Homo sapiens: one gene and its partners. The protein of the gene in region 1 binds, or shares a complex with, the protein of each later gene. Each region holds a gene or a part of one and is shown on either strand. Other genes may lie near its edges. A codon is read from its position in the direction of its gene.

What was found.
Region 2: ARPC4 (region 1) and ARPC3 share a complex: the UniProt entries of both Homo sapiens proteins name them as parts of the arp2/3 complex.
Region 3: the proteins of ARPC4 (region 1) and ACTR2 are in contact, whole or in part, in a cryo-EM structure (PDB 6YW6), measured with the Homo sapiens proteins. Residues at the interface, in NP_005709.1 of Homo sapiens: Val29, Val30, Glu31, Arg32, His33, Lys35, Pro36, Glu39, Val40, Ala98, Glu99, Asn100, Phe102, Ile103, Leu104, Arg105, Arg106, Lys107, Leu117, Thr119; in NP_005713.1 of Homo sapiens: Tyr222, Val223, Tyr225, Gln229, Glu230, Lys232, Leu233, Ala234, Leu235, Glu236, Thr237, Thr238, Val239, Lys253, Thr308, Met309, Tyr310, Pro311, Gly312, Pro314, Ser315, Asp346 (codon at 3,172).

Annotation. Positions count from the first base shown.
Region 1 is NC_000003.12:9,788,292-9,796,081, reverse strand, and holds the start of ARPC4 (actin-related protein 2/3 complex subunit 4), read right to left. Parts: upstream 3,001-7,790; 5' UTR 2,961-3,000; coding exon 2,958-2,960; coding exon of another isoform or gene 2,901-2,957; intron 1-2,900. Other genes in the region: ARPC4-TTLL3 fusion protein, read right to left, coding at 2,958-2,960; TADA3 (transcriptional adapter 3), read left to right, coding at 4,616-4,822, 6,119-6,369, 6,468-6,573. UniProt on the Homo sapiens protein: Actin-binding component of the Arp2/3 complex, a multiprotein complex that mediates actin polymerization upon stimulation by nucleation-promoting factor (NPF).
Region 2 is NC_000012.12:110,447,335-110,454,380, forward strand, and holds the start of ARPC3 (actin-related protein 2/3 complex subunit 3), read right to left. Parts: upstream 3,004-7,046; 5' UTR 2,927-3,003; coding exon 2,921-2,926; intron 1-2,920. Other genes in the region: GPN3 (GPN-loop GTPase 3), read right to left, coding at 5,700-5,762, 6,409-6,537. UniProt on the Homo sapiens protein: Component of the Arp2/3 complex, a multiprotein complex that mediates actin polymerization upon stimulation by nucleation-promoting factor (NPF).
Region 3 is NC_000002.12:65,265,809-65,271,756, reverse strand, and holds the end of ACTR2 (actin-related protein 2), read right to left. Parts: intron 3,194-5,948; coding exon 3,023-3,193; 3' UTR 504-3,022; downstream 1-503. UniProt on the Homo sapiens protein: ATP-binding component of the Arp2/3 complex, a multiprotein complex that mediates actin polymerization upon stimulation by nucleation-promoting factor (NPF).

The DNA of each region.
Region 1 (7,790 bases):
CTCTGTTGTCCAGGCTGGAGCGCAGTGGTGCAATCTTGGCTCACTGCAACCTCCACCTCCCGGGTTCAAGTGATTCACCTGCCTCAGCCATGCGAATAGCTGAGATGACAAGTGTGCACCACCGTGCCTGGTTAATTTTTGTATTTTTAGTAGAGATGGGGTTTCGCCATGTTGGCCAGGCTGGTCTCAAACTCCTGACCTCAAGTGACCCGCCCATCTCGGCCTCCTAAAGTGCTGGGATTACAGACATGAACCACTGCACCTGCCCTCCTTCATGCCTTTGTAAGTGATTTCTCCTTTACTAGGCTGTAAACCTCATGGTCAACAGACCATATCTATTTTATTCACAGCTATATAGCCTCCAACCTAGCTCAGTACCTAACATATACAGTGTCTCACTCATTTCCTGTAGAATAAATAAGCGAAAGAAATAATTAAGATTAGAGTAACACAAAAGGACAGCAAGAGTTCCAGAGTAGTAATGAGTACAATGTTTCTGTATATGAGAAGCATTTTAGATTCACTAAATGAGGCTGCAGCGGTAGGCTGAGGTAAGATCATGGGGAATCTTGAATGCCAGGCTACCAAGTTTAGCTTTTCTCTTAAGGGGGTAAGGAACTACTGGGGCTTTCTGAGGAGGAAGTTCATGACTGCAGCTGCATGATGGCTCTGTGGAGAATGATTTGGAGAGGGAAGTGAGACATACAGCAGACTGTATCACAAGCAAAGAGTATCACAAGCGTTGGACTGACATTAGATGGAGTGGATAATGGAACTGAAAAAAAACTTCCCAGGGGCTCACGCCTGTAATCCCGGCACTTTGGGAGGCCGAGGTGGGTGGACCACCTCAGGTCAGGAGTTCAAGACCAGCCTGGCCAACATGGCAAAACCCCGTCTCTACTAAAAATACAAAAAATTAGCTGTGGCGGGTGCCTGTAATCTCAGCTACTTGAGAGGCTGAGGCAGTAGAATTGCTTGAACCCAGGAGACTGAGGTTGCAGTGAGCCGAGATCACGCCACTGTGCTCCAGCCTGGGTGACAGAGCGAGACTGTGTCTTAAAAAAAAAGAAAAAGAAAAACCACTTCCAACGAACTGTGGTCCAGCCATTCAATTAACTACTACTTGGTAATAAAAAAAGAGTAACTATTGATACACACAACATGGTTGACTCTCAAATGTATTATGGTAAGAAGCCACACTTAAAAGCCTGCATACTAAAGAATTCCATTTACATGACAATCTGAAAAAGGCAAAACTACAGGGGGGAAAAATCAGTAGTTGTCTGGGGTGGGAAGGAGAGGACTGATTACAAAAGGGCTTGAGGGAACTTTTTGGGGTGACGGAAATGTTCTGTATTTTGGTTGCAGTAGTGGTTACACAACTTGACTTTTTTTTTTTAAGACACGGGATCTTGCTATATTGTCCAGGCTGAAGTGCAGTGGCTATTCACAGGAGTGATCACAGTGTACTACGGCCTCGAACTTCTGGGCTCAAGTGATCCTCCTGCCTCAGTGTCCTGAGCGGATGGTACTACAGGCGCATGCCACCATACCCAGCAAGTTTTTGCAACGCTTTTTTTTTTGAGACGGAGTCTTACTCTGTTGCCCAGTCTGGTGTGCAGTGGCACGATCTCGACTCACTGCAAGCTCTGCTTTCTGGGTTCACGCCATTCTCCTGCCTCAGCCTCCTGAGTAGCTGGGACTACAGGTGCCCACCACCACGCCCGGCTAATTTTTTGCATTTTTAGTAGAGAAGAGGTTTCACCGTGTTAGCCAGGATGGTCTCGATCTCCTGACGTCGTGATCCGCCCGCCTCTGCCTCCCAAAGTGCTGGGATTACAAGCGTGAGCCACCACGCCTGGCCTTTGTCAACAGTTATAGAAAGTAAACCTAAAAAGGGTGACTGGCTCCGTGACGCCTGTCCTTTCATGAATAAAACAGATGTAGTCTCATGTAATACCTCAATAAACTTGAACTTTTAAAAATCAAGAGGCATGTGCCCCACTAGAAAAAAAAAATACAGATTTTTAGCAGAGACATGAGGTCACAAAAGTTTGCCAGGATAGGGAACCCAGGAGGAAGAACAAATTTAGAATAGAATATGAGTTTTGAACTAGAGGTCTAATTTCAAGGTCTCTTCAAGATATCCAGGCAAACCTTGAAAGAGAGCTGAGAAGCCAGATTAGGAGTCATCAGAATGAAGAAAGTTATCGAAGCCAGGAGACTAGATCGGTATCACCAGGGAAGGTGTGACGAAGAGGGAGATGGTCATCCAAAGTCACAACTCCCAGGAATGCCCACACGTATGAAAAAGGCCCACATGTATGAAAAAGGCCCACATGTATGAAAAAGGGAGGACTTCCAGGAAGGGAGGGATGAGCAGTATCACAGCTAACATACACTAAGGCTGACACAGTTCAGTTCTGACCAGGAAGGGCCTGAATGGAAGCAACACGAGAGATCCTCCAATGGGGTGGAAGCAGGGCTGGAGGTACCAAGAATGGGATAAGGAAGTGTGGCCGCCTGCCTTAAGCAACTGTAGGGTCAGGAAGGCAGAAGAGGACAAAGGGCGTATGTCGTGAAGTTCCACTGTGGATAGGCAGGTGGACTTGCTTCATGCCTCAGAGGCTAAGAGGCCGACTACGTACCCTCGAAATGCTCCAAAGAGCCTAGGAGACCCCACTTCCGGGTTCCTACAGGGCTCAGGAAAAGCCCCTACCTGCTTCGAAGGCTGACCGTGAAGCCACAAGGCCCACTTCATACCAGGGAGTACCCCCACTCGCCCCTTCCTCACCTCGGGCCCCCGCCCCGTCTCTTTTTCCCACCCTCATCGTGTCCCCACAACCCCCGGACATCCCTCGGCCCCGCGCCCCTGCGGCAAAGCCACATCTCCCACCGACCCACTGCCCTGAGGCCGAACAGCCGGGGGTCCCTGGCCGGGGGCCCGGCTCTCTCACCATCGCGGGCGCTGGCTGGGCCGGAAAGCGGAAGTACGGAAGTGGCCAGCCCCGCGATGCCTGCCCTTTCGCGAGAAGCGCAGCTACGGTCTCCGCCCGGACTTCCGGACGGTACCATCTATGCTCCGAGCGGGGTAGAGAGCCCTTACGAACGCTTGGGCCTTCCGGAAGTTTTCCACCTAGGGCTGTCTCGGTATTTTTAAATTCTTGCACTCGAGTCACTATTTAAGCTCCTCCAGGAATGGGTGCAGCTTCCCTTTGTGCCTTCGGCCTTCTTGTCACCTTTGCCACAGCCTCCCCCAGGTATGCAATGGTACAGCCCAGCTTCAGATTGGGCACCAAATTAGGACAAGCCGAAGCGGACGAGCCCTTCGTTTCTTCCGGTTCTGTACCCCCATCCTTTCTCTCGCCCCTCCTACCCGCAGCTCCTGGCGCTCGGCGGGGCTAACTGCAGCGCGGAGATCTCGGCCGCCAAGCTCCGCCTCCCGCCCCGGGCTGTGCCCCGGGGCTCGCCTGAGGCCGACCACCCGCACCCCACCTCTAGCGGCTTTGCTCGAGGCCCACCTTCTTCCCACCCCCGGCAAACTCCAGTAGGCTCGCCCTCGCTGACTCCCCGCCCCCGCGTCAACTGCAAGGGGCCCGCCCATAGCCAGTTCCGGGGCGGTTGCTCACATCGACCGGAACTCCCCGCCCCCTCCCGCGGCCCCTGGGGCCGTAGGAGGCCGCAGCGAGGAGGTAGAGGGGGCGGGGGTCGCACTAGGGTGTCCCTAGAGAACGAGGACTCTGAAGGCGGGACATTTGGGCGACCCCCGGGCGGGGCCAGCCATTAAACAGTCCCACTTCTGTGCCAGACACTGAACTGGGCTCTTGACGGGCATCATCTCTTAATCCTCAGAACATCCCAGGGAGGTAGGTACTATTGTTATCCCCATTTTTCAGATTCAGACTTTTAATGGGGAAACAGACCGAGACTTCTTTTGTCCCCATTTTACAGATGGAAAAACTGAGACTGAAAAAGGTCAAATAACATGTTCAGGGGCATATAAGTAGAGAATGGTAAAGCCTGGGCTTGAACCCAGGTCTGTCTGGCTTACCAGCCCACGTTCTAAACCACTGTTAGTGACTAGAGAAGGGAGAAAGGTGGAATAGGGTAAGAAAAGAGGCCAAGAGTCCCAGAGAACATGGTAAGAATGGGGTGCTTGGAACTCAAAGTCTTAGCAGAACCCAAGAGAAATAGAAGGGAAGGAAAGAGCATCAGAAAGGCGAGGCAAGGCATAGCAGTATAGCATGGTGATCAGGGTGCAGACTCAAGACTAGCGGGGTTCAAATTGCATCTTGGAAGCATAGGCACATACCCACCCTTACAGAGTCTCAGTTTCTTTCTCTGTAAAAACGAGATCACAATGGTCCTTGTTCATGGTGCTGAGTGAGAAATTCAGTGAGATAAACTGATAAAGTGCTCTGCACCTAGCTTGGTACCCAGTTAAGTGCCCTGTGAGTAGGAACTGTGCCATCAATTTTGTCAGTAAGGGACTGAAGCTGGGCTTCCTTGAGGCTGTCCCTGGAGGTAAGAAGCCCTTGGGCTTTTCTCAGACCACTTTGTCTCCCATCAATGGCCCTGTCCTCTCCAGCTCCACAGGATCCCCATATCCTGGGCCATGAGTGAGTTGAAAGACTGCCCCTTGCAGTTCCACGACTTCAAGTCTGTGGATCACCTGAAGGTCTGTCCCCGCTACACGGCAGTGCTGGCACGCTCTGAGGATGATGGCATCGGCATCGAGGAGCTGGACACCCTGCAGCTGGAGCTGGAGACCCTGCTGTCTTCTGCCAGCCGGCGCCTGCGTGTGCTTGAGGCCGAAACCCAGGTGATAACCCCAGAGAGGGGCCAGCACCAGAGATGGACTGCAACAAGTTATGGGATGGGTCATTGAGTTAGCCCCATATGCTGAGACTTGGGGTACAGGGGTTTGTGGGGAGAGGGAGAGAGACGCAAACTGGGTTTGCATGACACAAAAAATACACAAGAATATGCATGATCCTCTTAAATTGCAAGATTTCTAATTCAGTAAGCTTTTATTGGCACCCCACTCATCCCCCATTGTGTTCTGGGTCCTATGCTAGTCATTAGAGAAAGGTAATTAGGACAGTTATGGCTGTCAGGGAGCTTGGCAACTAGGAAAGTGAGAAAGTCAAGTACATACCAGGTGATGTGATGTTGTGGTTAGCAGTCCTAGGGAACTGGAATGGGGAAACCTGGATTTGAATCCTGGCATAAGCGCTTGCTAGCATTGCTGTTTCCTAGCTATGTGACTTTGAGAAAGTTGCCTCATATCTCTGAGTGTCAGTTTCCCTATCTGCAAAGTGGGGTGAATAATAGGACCTACCTTAGTGCTTTTGTGAGGATTAAAAGAGAATTTTTTGCAAAAACTCAGCCCAATGCCAGACACTAAGTAAGTACTTCAGATGTTATTTATTTGCTACTCTGATGACTTTATTCACTGCATAAAGATGCCTTGAGCCTTGTGTGCCAGGCGCTATGCTGTATTCTGCAAAATAGAGATGGTTAAGGTGGGCTTTCTGGTCCTCAGTAGCTTATGGTCTAGTTGAAGAGACAAGGTGTGATGGTCATTCCAGTGTGACCAAACAACACGATTGGGTGCACGTTGGAGCTGTGAAGTGCCAGAGACTTGTGGAGGAAGGAGGTGCCAACTGGACCTAAAAGGATGAATGGAATTAACTTGTCCCTGGGAATCCATGGACCCTCCTTGAGGAAGGCTATGACTCAAGTTGTATTTTAGCATCTAAGAACCTGGGTAACTGATTGAGAGAAGGCATCTCAGTAGTGGTGACATCGAAGTGAAGGTTTGCTGAGAGGACTCTTCTGTTAAACAGTATGTGACTGGCATGGGTGATACAGAAGTGAATCAGTATAGATGAACAAGTGAATGAGATTATGAGAAGTATATGAATAAAGTTCTAGGAGGCCAGGCACAGAAAATGAGCTGAATTTTGAAGGATGAGTAAGAGTTTACTAGGTAAAAAGAGGATGGGGAAAGACCCAGGAGCCTCTGTAGATTCTAGATCCTAATTTATTCACTAGAGGAAAGAGATATTCTGTGTTTTCCCTTCTCCCCCTCAGTGACACTTTCTGTAAATTTCAGATCCTCACCGACTGGCAGGATAAGAAAGGTGACAGACGATTCCTGAAGCTGGGTCGAGACCATGAACTTGGAGCTCCCCCCAAACATGGGAAGCCCAAGAAGCAGAAACTGGAAGGGAAGGCAGGACATGGGCCGGGCCCTGGCCCAGGACGGCCCAAATCCAAAAACCTTCAGCCCAAGATCCAGGAATATGAATTCACTGATGACCCTATCGACGTGCCACGGATCCCCAAAAATGATGCCCCCAACAGGTTCTGGGCTAGAGAACATAGAAGGGGGCCTCAAGGTTCTGGTGGTGGAGGCACTGGTGGGGCAGGGGCGCCCACTCAGGATCTGCTTCTCCCTGCAGGTTCTGGGCTTCAGTGGAGCCCTACTGTGCTGACATCACCAGCGAGGAGGTCCGCACACTTGAGGAGTTACTGAAGCCCCCAGAAGATGAGGCTGAGCATTACAAGGTAGAAACTCTGGGCCTTGATAGACATGATGCGGAACAAGAGAGTTCAGAGGTGCCTGAGAAGTAAAGCTACCAAAGCCATGCATCATCTTCCTTCCCCAACCCTGCCCAGTCTGCTGTCTGCTCCATCAGTGCCTCCAGACACCTAGGCCCAAACTCAGCTTTCTCCGTGCACTGCCTCCCCTCTACCCCAGCCAAATGTCAACACGCCCTCAAGCATCTACTTAAGTGAAGTCTGCCCATGTTCCTTTATCCCCATCCCCTCTGCTTTGGTCCAAGCCTTCATCAACTTCTATCCAAACAGCCTCTTAACTCTCTTCCTGTTTCGAGGCCTCTGGAGGAACCTTTCTTCTTTCTTTAAGATATAAAACTTGGGCTGGGAGCAGTGGCTTATGCCTGCAATCCTAGCACTTTGGGAGGCCGGGGCGGGCAGATTGCTTGAGCTCAGGAATTTGAGACCAGCCTGGGCAACATGGTGAAACCCCATCTCTACCAAAATACAAAAAATTAGCCAGGCATGGCGGTGTGCGCCTGTAGTCCCAGCTACTCGGGAGGCTGAGTCAGGAGGATCTCTTGGACCCGGGAGGTGGAAGTTGCAGTGAGCCGAGATCACGCCACTGCACTCCAGCCTGGGCAACAGAGCAAGACTCCGTCTCCAAAAAAAAAAAAAAGATATAAAAGTCACCTCACGCCTGTAATCCCAACACTTTGGGAGGCTGTGGCAGGCAGATCATCTGAGGTCAGGAGTTCAAGACCAGCCTGACCAACATGGTGAAACGCCGTCTCTACTAAAAATACAAAAATTAGCCTGGCACGGTGGCATGCACCTGTAATCCTGGCTACTCGGGAGGCTGAGCCAGGAAAATCACCTGAACTGGGGAGGCATCGGTTGCAATGAGCCAAGATCGTGCCACTGTATTCCAGCCTGGGTGACAGAAGGAGATTCCATCCATTAAAAAAAAAAAAGCCGGGTGCGGTGGCTCAAGCCTGTAATCCCAGCCCTTTGGGAGGCCGAGGCGGGCAGATCACAAGGTCAGGAGATTGAGACCATCCTGGCTAACACGGTGAAACCCCGTCTCTACTAAAAATAGAAAAAATTAGCCGGGCGTGGTGGCGGGCGCCTGTAGTCCCAGCTGCTCGGGAGGCTAAGGCAGGAGAATGGCGTGAACCCGGGAGGCGGAGCTTGCAGTGAGCTGAGATTGTGCCACTGCACTCCAG
Region 2 (7,046 bases), on another chromosome or scaffold:
TATAAGTCAACATGGGTCCCATTCATATATTCATTCATTCATCAAATGATTGCTAAGCACCTTCTATGTGCAAGACACTGTGATATAGTAATATACAAAGTAGTACGATTCTGGTCCTTGAAGAGTAGAGAAGACAGACAGAAAATAATCACAGGATGGGATGGGCGGGGTGGCTCACGCCTGTAATCCAAACACTTTGGGAGGCTGAGGCGGACAGATCACAAGGCCAGAAGATCGAGACCACCCTGACCAACATGGTGAAACCCCATCTCTACTAAAAATATCAAAATTAGCTGGGTGTGGTAGTGCATGCCTGTATTCCCAGCTACTTGGGAGGCTGAGGCATGAGAATCGCTTGAACCCAGGAGGCAGAGGTTGCAGTGAGCCGAGATGGCACCACTGCACTCCAGCCTGGCGACACAGCAAGACTCTGTCTCAAAAACAAACAAACAAACAAACCCCTCCCCCCAAAAAAACAAACAAACAAAACCCAACAGAGTGAATCCAGGGTGCTCTATGTGCGATTGGAACCAGTACAGGGATTTAGAGTCCTTTTTTTTTTTTTTTTTTTTTTTGGAGACAGAGTTTCCTAGGCTGGAGTACAGTGGCAGGATCACAGCTCACTGCAGCCTCAAACTCCTGGCTCCAGGTGATCCTCCCACCTCAGCCTCTTGAGAGGCTGGGAGGACATGCACTACCACATCCAGCTAATTTATTTTTATTTTTGTAGAGGCAGGGTCTCATTATGTTGCCCAGGTTGGTCTCAAACTCCTGGGCTCAAGTGATCCTCCCATCTTGGCCTCCTAAAGTGTTGGGATTACAGGCATAAGCCACTGCACCCAGCCTAGAGTCCTGGCTTAAAACCTGGTTTTACCATTACTAGGCAACCTTGTCCAAATTAACTTCTCTGAGGCTCCGTTTCCTCTTCTGTAAAACAGGAATCATGGTACCTACTTCATAGGGTCGTTATGAGGATTAGATGGGATAATTTATAAAGTGTGTACCCCAGAGCTCAGGAGTCAAATGGTAATTATGGGATTCATAAAATATGCATTTGTGAGGCTGAGCGAGGTGGCTCATGTCTGTAATCCCAACACTTAGGGAGGGTGAGGCAGGAGGACTGCTTGAGCCCAGAAGTTTGAGATCAGCCTGGACAACATGGTGAGACTCTGTCTCTACTAAAAACACAAAAACTTAGCTGGGCATGGTGGCGTACACCTGTAGTCCCAGCTGCTCAGGAGGCTGAGGTGGGAGGATCACCTGAACCGAGTTTGTGTCACTGAACTGCAGCCTGAGAGACAGGGTCACACCCTGTCTCAAAAAAAAAAAAAATGTATTTGCAACTATGGCTTGCTCCTTTTCATCACAGGTATGCTTTATCTAAAGCAGCCTCCGCCTTCCCTCTCACCAACTGTCTTGTTACCCATCTAGCTTCTTTTTTTCCGGGGGGGGGGGGGGTGGTGGTACAGAGTCTCACTCTGTCACTAGACGAGTGCAGTGGCACGGTCTCGGCTCACTGCAACCTCCGCCTCCTGGGTTCAAGCGATTCTCCTGCCTCAGCCTCCCAAGTAGCTGGGATTACAGGCACGCACCACCACGCCTGGCTAATTTTTGTATTTTTAGTAGAGATGGGGTTTCACCATGTTGGCCAGGCTGGTCTTGAACTCCTGACCTCGTGATCCGCCCACCTAGGCCTCCCAAAGTGCTGGGATTACAGGCGTGAGCCACTGCGCCTGACCACCCATCTAGCTTCTTTATAGCATTTGTCACTACCTGACACTACCGTATGTATCTCCTTTATTATGTTTACACTTTTATTGTCTCGACTCCCGATTTGAATGTACATTCTTTAAGATTAGGGATTTGTTGAACTTATTTGCTGCTGTAAATACAGCCTGGCAGGCAGCAGGTGCTCGTTAACGTTTGTTAAAAATAATGTGTGAGCAGGCTGGGCGCGATGGCTCACGCTTATAATCCCAGCACTTTGGGAGACCGAGGGGGCGGATCACCTGAGGTCTGGAGTTCCAGACCAGCCTGGCCAACATGGTGAAACCCCGTCTCTACTAAAATGCAAAAAATTAGCTGGGCGTGGTGGCGCGCGCCTGTAATCTCAGCTACCCGGGAGGCTGAGGCACGAGAATTGCTTGAACCAGGGTGGTGGAAGTTGTAGTGAGCCGAGATCGCCTCACTGCACTCCAGCCTGGGCGACAGAACGAGACTCTCTCAAAAAACAAACAACAAAAAAAGTGTGAACAATCACATAATAACTGAACCACCTTTTCCCGAATCTGCAAAATGGAGACCATGACGGTGATAAATCTACCCCACAAACTGGCTGTCAGAAATTAAGTACAACCAGGCCGTCATAATTTTTTACTCCCACTCTGATGGCACACGAAAAAGGAAATCTTTGGAAGTCAGGCGCCGAACGAGTCTGTGAGGGCCCTAAACCCAGCTGGCTCCGGGATGGCCGCCGCTGCCGGGAAGTGGGTTCTGACAAATGACAAACAGCAGAGGGAGCCTGACCCCGGGGCGGAGGAGGAAGTGGGCCTGACAGAAAAAGGAGAAGCTAGACCCCTGGACTTGAAATATGAAAAATAAAAAGCGCAGCCCTTGGCTTCGCTCTCTAGTGAGGCTTTGGGAACCCTGCCGGAGTCGGAAGGAGTAGACGGAGAGAGAAAAGGGCCTCCTCACACACCCTGGACCCTTGGCCCACTCCTGCCGCGCCCCCGCCTCCCACGACTGGCACCCCCGGGCCGCCCCAATCCTTCAGCAACCGGTCCCCTCCCCTCGCCTCCCTCCTTCTCGGGCCCCAGCTTCCTCTCTGCCTTCCGCCGCCCGCTTCTCTCGGCACACACACGGTTTCTCTCTGCTCTTCGCAATCCCCGCTGTCTCCCCACACCGTGGATCGAACCCTCACCGGCATCTTGGCGGCGCCCGGGTTTCAACCCAGAGGAGCAGGATCCAGGTACAGCGGAGCGCTTCCGGTCTGGCAGCCTGGGCGAGGTAGGCGGAAGCGAAACGGAAGGGGCGGGTGCGGACGTGGAGCTTCCGGCCTTGCAGTTCCGCTTCTGGTTGCAGCGGCCGCGCGGATCTGAAGGAGGCGCCAGAGCACTAGGCAGGGGCCTTGAGTGGTGCAGCGTGAGGCAGCGCCCAGAATGGAGATGGGTCTTGAGGTTCCAGAATCTGAGATCAATCACCTCTTTTGTATTTTTTTCAAATGTCACCTTTTCAGGGCCGGGCATAGTGGCTCACGCCTGTAATCCCAGCACTTTGGGAGGTCGAGGCGGGTGGATCACCTGAGGTCAGGAGTTCGAGACCAGCCTGGATGGTGAAACCCCGTCTCTACTAAAAATACAAAAATTAGCTGGTCGTGGTAGCATCCCAGCTACTCGGGAGGCTGAGGCCGGAGAATCGCTTGAACCCAGGAGGCAGAGGTTGCAGTGAGCCAAGATCGCGCCGCTGCACTCCAGCCGGGATGACAGTGTGACTCTCTCAAAAAAAAAAAAAAAAAAAAAAAAAAAAAATCACCTTTCCTGTGAAGCATTCTCCGTTCATTCTATTTTCAGTTCACCCAACTCCAGCCCCATGCCTTATCCTTCTCTCCCGCTTTTTCCCTTAGTTCTTACGATTCTTGTATTTAGTTTACTCTTAGTGCTTGTGAATGCCAAAAAGGCAGCACTTCGTCCGTTTTGTCACCTGCGCCCGTAACAGTGACGGTATGTAGGAAACATCAATATTTGAGTGAATGAATGAACCCAATGCACTGCATCTAAAAATGGAGAAACTGAAGGGCACTGGACTCCAGGTTTGAATCGCAGCTCCAATACATACTAGCTCTGTAATTTTGAGCAAGTTAACTGGCCTGTGCTTCAGTTCCTCACCTGAAAATGGCAGTAACAGTATTTACCTCATAGTTTTGTGAGGATGAAATGAATTACATGTAAAATGCTTAGAACTTACATGCTTGGAGCATACTGAAAGCCCAGAGTTTTAACTTATTTATTACTAGAAAACTTCTTATGTTAAAAGTCAAGTTCATTGCTGCCTGAGAGCCATTTCTTCTGCCAGTTCCCAGCCTGAAATAGGACCCCATGTTCCCACATCTGATTTCACATTCAGCTGACTGGGCAAATAGCACCTTTTAGGCAAGGTCTTTTTTGACAAAGAGCCCAAAGTAGCCCCATAATCACTCTCCATTTCTTTTCTGCTTTTCTTTCCATCCTCTCTCTGAGGTTTCCTTCCTCATGGTCAGTCTCACAGGCCCAGCATGGCAGCCCCACGTGAGCAAGGCCCTGCCTGCACTGTGCATCCCTGTTCTATCCCCAGTGTCTGGCATCCACGGAACTTCAGTAAATTTGTGTAAATTTACTGAATTTCTGTCAGCCCTGCCTATGAGACAGTGAAATCCTCGAGGACTGGAATTGTCAGATTCATCTTTGAAACCCCAGTGTCCAGTGGGGAAGGCACTGGAATCGGGTCCTTCACTTTTTCTCCACAGGCACATACCATACTCTCTAGAAGCTAAACCAGGGAGGACCAAGGAAGAGGGCAACTGAAAATCTGCCTCTTCTTTCTTCCCCTCCCATGTGACAATAAGTTTCTAAGAATTAGCAACCCTGGGAGATCAGGCTGTTTCCACACTATCTATCCTCTAAGGGCCACAGGAAGGTCCCCAGGCAGCCCAGCACATCCCCATGTTGCCCACTCATCATGCTCCTCCCTGAGTGGACCATGGGGTAGACACCCGACCCTTCCCTCTAGCCTGGCCCCCAGGCATAAGCTACCACCGATACTTACAGGTCCTCACATTTTTTTTTTTTTTGAGATGGAGTCTCACTCTGTTGCCCAGGCTGGAGTGCAATGGTGCGATCCTGGCTCACTGCAACCTCCACCTTCTGGATTCAAGGGATTCTCCCACCTCAGCCTCTCAAGTAGCTGCGATTACAGGCACGCGCCACCACGCCCAGCTAATTTTTTGTATTTTTAGTAAAGACAGGCTTTCACCATGTTGGCCAGGTTGGTCTTGAACTCCTGACCTCAGGTGATCCACCTGCCTCGGCCTCCTAAAGTGCTGGCATTGTAGGTGTGAGCCACCACGCTTGGCCACATTTTGCTTAATTAAAATGAATCAAATTAGACACTGCAGTGTACTTGTTATCTAGGTCCAAGAATCATTAAAAACCTTTGTTTCTTTTATATATACACATACATATCTCAAAACATAGTTATTTTTACTTTTTAAGTTATATAAATAATATACATTTTCAATATAGGAAAATGGGAAGATACAGATAAGCAGTGGTCTTATATATATCCTTGCAGCTTTTTCCCTTCGGACATACATATTTTGTTACAGTAATTCCTGCATCTCAAAAATAATACAAAAAGTGAAAATAAGTTTAGACCAGCCTTAACCTTAGCTCAGGTGCTAATTTATATATAAATCTATGTGCATTCATTTCAATTTTGACTTACAAAATCTAAAGTGATGCTGTTATAATACTAAAAGATTCCACTTTAAACAGCAGCAGTTTCAGAATAATTAAAAATTTGATTCAGGCATGAGGCTGATAAAGAACGAAGTTTTACTTTTTTTCATTAAAATAAGTAGCTTTCTACTATTGCATCCTTTGAAGAGAAGAATGTTCTGCTGGTTTGGCCACAAGCTCTTTAGATGGTTACTTTTAGTAAACTCTTCATTCATCCTGGCATTCTTGAAAATATTCGTCAAACATAGAGGAAGACTCATCTTCACGTTCCTGACACAATGGAAACACAAAATAGAAAATATATTCATTTCCCCTCAGTCAGAACTAGTATGTGTTTATATATTTTTCAGGTAATACCCTATGTGGAACTAATTACCCAGCACCAGCTCCAGGTGCTGCTTATAGGTAACTGTTAATAGTAAGAAAAGGCATGATTGACAGATTTTTTTCCAGTTATGTAGTAAATTAATGTGCTTCTATCCCAGAAGCATTTCTCATTTGAATTTACATTCAAGACGATTCTTGGCTAATTTCCTGTGATAGTGCTTTACTTCGCTGGTAGTCTAGTGGTCAGGAAAATAAAAAATAAAAAAATAAAAAAATGCTTAGCTGATACTATCATTAGTCTTCTCAATGACATACGTGAGGGCAGCCCAATTTCACCTCCTCTTTACACATACACCCAAGCTCTAAGTACACACAGGCTTCATCATACTGCCTCAACAAAAGTAGAGTAAAAGTGATACTGCTTGTGGAGTACAGTGTTAATTTCAGAGATCACCCAGAAAAGCCCAGTTAACTGCCATCAATAAGACAAAAAACTAATTTAAGGAGTCGCCTGGATTATGCAAGAGTCCAGTGAGTGCTGGCAAATATTTTTATCAAAAGCTAACAAACACCCCAAACCAGAAATTACCTTTGGTTCTTTAAATTCTAGGTCTTCTCCATATTGAATGGCAAAATCAATATGCTGCAATACAATGTTCATGCTTTCTTCATCTGACTGATCGTAAGGTAAAAATCGAACCATGCTGTAGTCATCAATCTACAAGTTGTGGATTTCAAGAAAAGTTCATTCTGAAGTTGTGCAAAATACATAATTTTCAACTTATATTTGAGTTTTATAACCATTTGTACTTCTGAATAAAAACACTGATGTGTTTACAGGAAGAGGAGGAGAAGGGATAGCTAGACACAGAGAGTAAATCATTGATTTTTCTGACTTCTGATCTGCTAGAACACTTGTTAGCTTATTACTTTAACTAGACACTGTTTCACGGCTATTTATCTGAATTCAACAACCACTGGAAATTTCACAAGAGAACAAACAGTCCTGAACTCTCCAAATGGCTTGAAATAATAAGATGTTAGTTTATTTATTGGCCACTACCAATAACTACTTCTAAATTAAACTGCTGACTGACCAGCCCACAGCCCTTTTCCCTCCACTTTGCAGAAAATAGGGTTGAACTGTGCTTTTTATATGGCAAATGACTGGACACAGGCAAACACTTGACCAGGTGTTTAGGAAAAAAACCCAAAAAACTTCATCTT
Region 3 (5,948 bases), on another chromosome or scaffold:
GGGACTCCGGCCCTGAAGCGGGCAATGAGGTTTGCACATACAAGTCCACGAAGAAGGAAAGGCAAAAATACTCTCTCTACTCTCCAGCCCTCATCCTCAAGGCTAGTATAAAACAAGAAAAGGTCAGTTAAATGTATTTTCATCCTTCTTTTATTTGTTAAAAATAATATGCCTAAAAGTCTGCAGATGAGCTAATATGTCCTTGAAAGGGGGCATGTTACATACAGGTCTCTTTAGCATTTCTAATTCTGTGAAAGCCACCTTAAATCTTTTGGGAGACAAAACAGTTTGTTGGAAGAAAACAGCCTCTGATGTAGCTATAAATCGCTATTCTATTTTCTTATGTATTTATAAAATCATACCAGAAATAATGAGTTGTTTTGTCAATAATAGAACACTGACATGAACTTGACCTAACAACTAGCATAAACTGTCAATTCATCTTGCATTAACAAGAAAATGAAACAAGAAATAACTATTAGAAAGAAATGACAAAATTCAAATTGACTTTGAAAAAATCTGATTTTATTTTCTCAATCAAAATGAAGTATTTCATGTTAATTTAGACTGTTTAGCTTTCCACTGATATCTCAAGATACTTTCCAGATATTAACAGTACTCAGAACTGTGTAAAAGTTAACCACCAAAACCATGTTTTAAAGAAAAAAGTTTAAATGTAAGACTAATGTCTTGGGGACTTTACTAAATGTATTTCTAAAAAAACCCTTCTCAAATGTAGAAGTATTGGCAATTCTAATTTAAAAATTTTAAATTTTTAATTATTGGAAATTTAAGTAGCAATAGTTTCAAGAGCTAAGAATCAGATTGCTTTTTAAAACAGAATTTTTTTTTTTTCCTGAGGGACTCATACTTGACAACTCCAGTTAAACATAATACTCCACCCAAATCCCAAATTTAAATGCATTATGTCACCCTGGAATAGTAAAATTATAAAATGGTATTTCTAAATTATAATATATATACATAATGCACCATTTTAACTGTCACATTTACCAGCAGAATTATGAAATCAAAAACAAATTCTACATTCAAGGGACAAACGATAAATGCTCTTTCATTGTTTTAAGAGTCCATTCCATTCTTTGTTGTTTTCTACTCCCATATTTTAAAATTATGACCAAAGGAGCCTGAAGGCCAAGTCAATCCCATTTCCCTGAACCCAACTGCCAGTAGGTACGGGCCCTACATACGCGTCCTTTAACAAGCCCCGTTCTCAAAAGGCTGGGGGTATTTATATAAGAACTTATTCCAAAGTGACTCTAAGATCCATGTTCCCAAGATCTAGTACGGGCTATTCAGGGTTCTGAGGCATGTCCAGCATGCAGGCAAACTTATCTGTTCAAATTGAGGTAAAACAGACAAAAAACACTTAATATTAACAGAAGCTACATAATTAAAACTAACCTTCTGCTGCTTATTTAAGCTAATGATGTATTCTTACCAAACAGAGACCCTCAAGTCAATCATTTCTTTTGATTTTAGTTACCACCCCCAAATTAAGCCTCTTCTTTCAAAGCTATTATTAGTTAAAAAAAAGTTTTAAAATGAAGAAAAATATTTTTTCCAGAACTTGTATTTTGTAATTAGTGTGATGCAATTTCTTTTTATTTTTCAAACTTAGAAATAACTCATGTATGGTACTATTTGGTATTTTTTTCAGATACCAAGGAATACCGACAGGATTCATAAATAGGATTTTCTGACACTGGCAGGAAAGTCTGCTAACGTTTACAAAATACCAAAGACTCTTCTTTCAAGCTTCAAAGATGGCTGAGAATTAACAGTTATGATTAGTTTTTCAGTACAAATAAAAAAATTAAATCTTGATTTTTTTGGCCAACATTTTAAACAGTCAAATTTTACTGTATTTCCAGGTTTCAAATCAAAACAAACAAAACAACTAATGAAAATTACCCAATTGGCAACAAGTCCTGTATTCCAATGTTATTTTTAAACCACCAATTATAACCTACTGCCAGTAATTATTTGTAAGTACCTGCTTGTTTTATTAAGCACTGGTCAGTTATATAAAAGAATAATTTGCAAGAATGATACTTGGCAATGGGTTACCTTAATGCTTCTGGAATAAACAGAAGCATTAACAAAACACCAGATCTTAAGCTCTTTTAAATCTGTAATTCGAATTACCCAAAGGATTTTTAAATGTTACTTTTCCATTGAAGGACTGTAGGGAGTCTAATCCCAGCTAACATGGTTGATTTTAAAAAACAAATAAATCCCTAAGCCACATAGTAATGGAATACTACACTTGCTTTTTATATCATATGGAAACAGCTCCAGGCAGAGCACAAGTAGAAGAAAACCTGCCAAATCAAAGTACTGTAAATAAAGTTCCTCTACGTACTCCAGTTGACAAAACCTCAAAAATAAAAATCAGAAGACCACCCATTGTTACCCTCCCCCCCGCAACAAAACCCACCCAAAACACTTTAGTTCTGAACCTAACATTTCCCTAAGAAGTTCACAGGAGAAGCTTTAAGGTACTTAAAGCTGCAGCAGTACAGTTGAAAGCGCCACATTACAGAGGAAATGCCCTAAAGGGTTCAGCAGCTGCCCACCCATCCCGAACCACCCCCCATCCCAGTAATATGTAAAAGCTCCTGTTAAAGTTTTTTTTGTTTTATGCTAATAAAGGCATACCACCTAGTGTGCTAAAGACTACGACTAGCAGCATTAGAGCAGTAAAGTGAAAATAGGAAGCCTATAGGAATGATCTAAATGCCTACTTAGAAGAAACAAAGCAGCAGACAGAATCCTTAGCCCTCTAGTCTATGTAGGGAAGCAGTTGAATTAAACTCAGATTTACCCACATTAACAAAAATTTAACAAAGCTTCCCCAAGACACCAGAATAAAACTTGACCTTTCCAGTCAAAGGGCAGAGAGAGGCCTCTTCCATGTCCTGGAGTTGAATGAGTTCAAAGATTGGCAATAAAGGAAAAAAGAAAGCATTACGGGTATGACGGGAACAAGCTTTGGAGTTTATCGAACAGTCACACCAAGTTTCTCTAGCACACGGACACCCTTTTCTTGGTACTCTTGTCGGGTCATCCAAAAGTTGTCTTTGTCTTTCATGATATCCGCTAGAACTGCACCACCCAGGAATACCATGTGCTTTCTGCGGGGTGGGTCTTCAATGCGGATCTTAAATTTCTAAAGGAGAAAGAAAGGATAATGAAATGGTACATGTGCACAGTGCTTTCTGCTTTATGAAAATGGCTTTTTAAATATATGCTCTCCCTCAAACTTGCAACAGTCCTGTAATATAAGTAGAACGTAATATTTGGTACCTGAGGTACAGAAACATTTAGTAATTTGCCCAAAGCTCATGTTTAGGAGACCACACATCCATCCCAGCATGCTTGGAACAGTCCTGATTTACACGTGGTGTCCCATCATTATTAATACCACCCTTTCCATTCTTGAGTGTCCTAATTTGATCAGTAAATTACATGACTTAACACCCTACTGAGAGACCAAACATCCAAGACATAATTAGAGCAAATTTCCCATCCAATGGCAGATGACCACTTGGGAAAGTCACTTTGCTGTCAAGCAAAGTCTGGATAAGAGGACTTGCATGGCTGGGTGTGGTGGCTCAAGTGTAATCCCAGCACTTTGGGAGGCCAAGGCGGGCGGATCACGAGGTCAGGAGATCGAGACCATCCTGGCTAACACAGTGAAACCCCGTCTCTACTAAAAATACAAAAAAATTAGCCGGGCATGGTAGTGGGTGCCTGTAGTCCCAGCTACTCGGGAGGCTGAGGCAGGAGAATGACGTAAACCTGGGAGGTGGAGCTTGCAGTGAGCCCAGAGACTCAATCTCAAAAAAAAAAAAAAAAAAAAAAAAAAAAGAGGACTTGCATGACTTCTTCAAGGTCTCATACTGTTATGATTCTAGTCCAGGGCAATAGAGTAAAACTGAAGTTCTTTTCTTTTAAGCAAAGCTTACTTTCTATTGTCTCAAAATCAAATGAAATGTTCTTAAAATAAACAAGGCCAAATATGGTCAAAACAAATCATCAGGATGTTATGAGAAAATGAACACAGTAACCAAAATTAAAGGCAATTGGGAAAAGTTTTATACTCTGTAGCTACTATTAAGTGTCTAGGAAGGACACATCCTTATCTTTATGGTTGGTCAACACCTGAAAGAGAAACCTTAAAATGACATAGCAAGTTTTTCATTTACAGTATCACGATCTGCAAAAAAGACCCAATGTAACTATGTCATTCTAAATCATTTGTATATTTATGTCACATAAATGAACTGTAAGGGTTCTAACAATCCAAGATAAAGAAAAACATCAGTTTATTTACCAATTCTGAGACTGTTTTAATTGTTCCTTTTACTTTCTTGCTCTTACATAGGGGTCAGCAAACTTTTTTTGTGAAGGGCCAGATACTTGAGGCTTTGTAGGCGTGACAAGTACCCAACCCCACATGTAGCTAGAAGGTGCCCACAGACAATATGTGACAACAGGTAACATTATGTAAACAAATGGGCTTGGCTGTGTTCCAATAAAACTTAAAAAAAACAAACAAACCAGTTTTGGCATAAGGGCTATAGATGACCACCTCTACTCTAAGGGAAACTTAGCTAGCCCCTGAAGACACTGCTTCTGTAAATACCTCAACTGCTTTACTGTTTCTCTCTCACACACTACCTTAACCCTGGAGGTTTGGTAATATGAGTTATTGCTCTTCATTGCTGCTTCTATCTCGCTCATCCCTAAAACTCCATAGCCCCACTGAAACTCATTCTATCAGATCATTCCATCTACCACTCCCTCCTTGCTGAACTCATCTACAGATTCCTACAGACAAATTGCACCTGCTGTCAAGCAGCTGAACAAGATAGGAAAGAAACAAAACATCTTGCTATAATGTATCACTAACCTCAACTGAGCCCTTCCTGCTGCATGGCAATCCTATTACATTTCTCTATTCTCGCTTCCATTCTCCAAAACAACCATTTCAACCTCCTCCTCTATTCTAAAACTCTACCATCCCTCCCCTCCTCTCAGTGCCTCCTAACTGGTCTCTCTATGCCCACCTTTGTTCCCTCTTCCCCCAAGAGTCTATTCACCACACCAGACTTAATGATCCTTTAAAAATATACATCAGATCCTATCATTTCTCTGCTTAAACCGCCCCCACACCCAAGACTTTCCATTTCACCAGGAGTCAAGCCAAACCCTTTACCATGGCTGAACAAGACCTGCCCTCCTGCTACCCTTCTGACCTCATATCCCACCTGCCCCCCTCCCTTGCTCACTCTGCTCCAGCCACACTGGCACACTCCCACCAACCTGGGGCTTTTGCATTTTTCCTGCCTGGAAGATTCTTCCCCCAGACAGTCACAAGGCTCACTCCTCTCACGCTCAACTTAGGTCTCTGATCAAAAGTCACTTCATCCAAAAGGCCTTTCCTGATCACAGTTTATGAAGGAGCACACTACCTCCCCAACCACTAACATTTTCCAGCTCTTCACCTTACTTTTCTTCATATCACTTATTACCACTAATACATTATTTAGACTAAAAGCAGGGATTCTGTTTTCATTGTTTTGTTTGTCCCCGGCACCTAGACCTATGTCTGGCACCCAGGAGTTCAAGAAATGTTTGCTGAATAAATGATCACCTGAGATTAATTATAAATTATATGTAAAACTCAATAAAATCAGAAAAATAAGTGAAGTACTTAGACAGTATGGCTCCTTTCCAGTCTGTTAATCTGTTTAATGTATGTGAGCCCATACTCAATTTAATTTCAACAATGAGTCATATATGAAAGATGTAACATACAGTACTCTGTAATACATAATCTCATTATCTAAAACAGTTGATCAAAGTCAGTGAGACAAAGCTCAGAGATTAACTCAGGATTAGATAACTCTTGGTTAAGT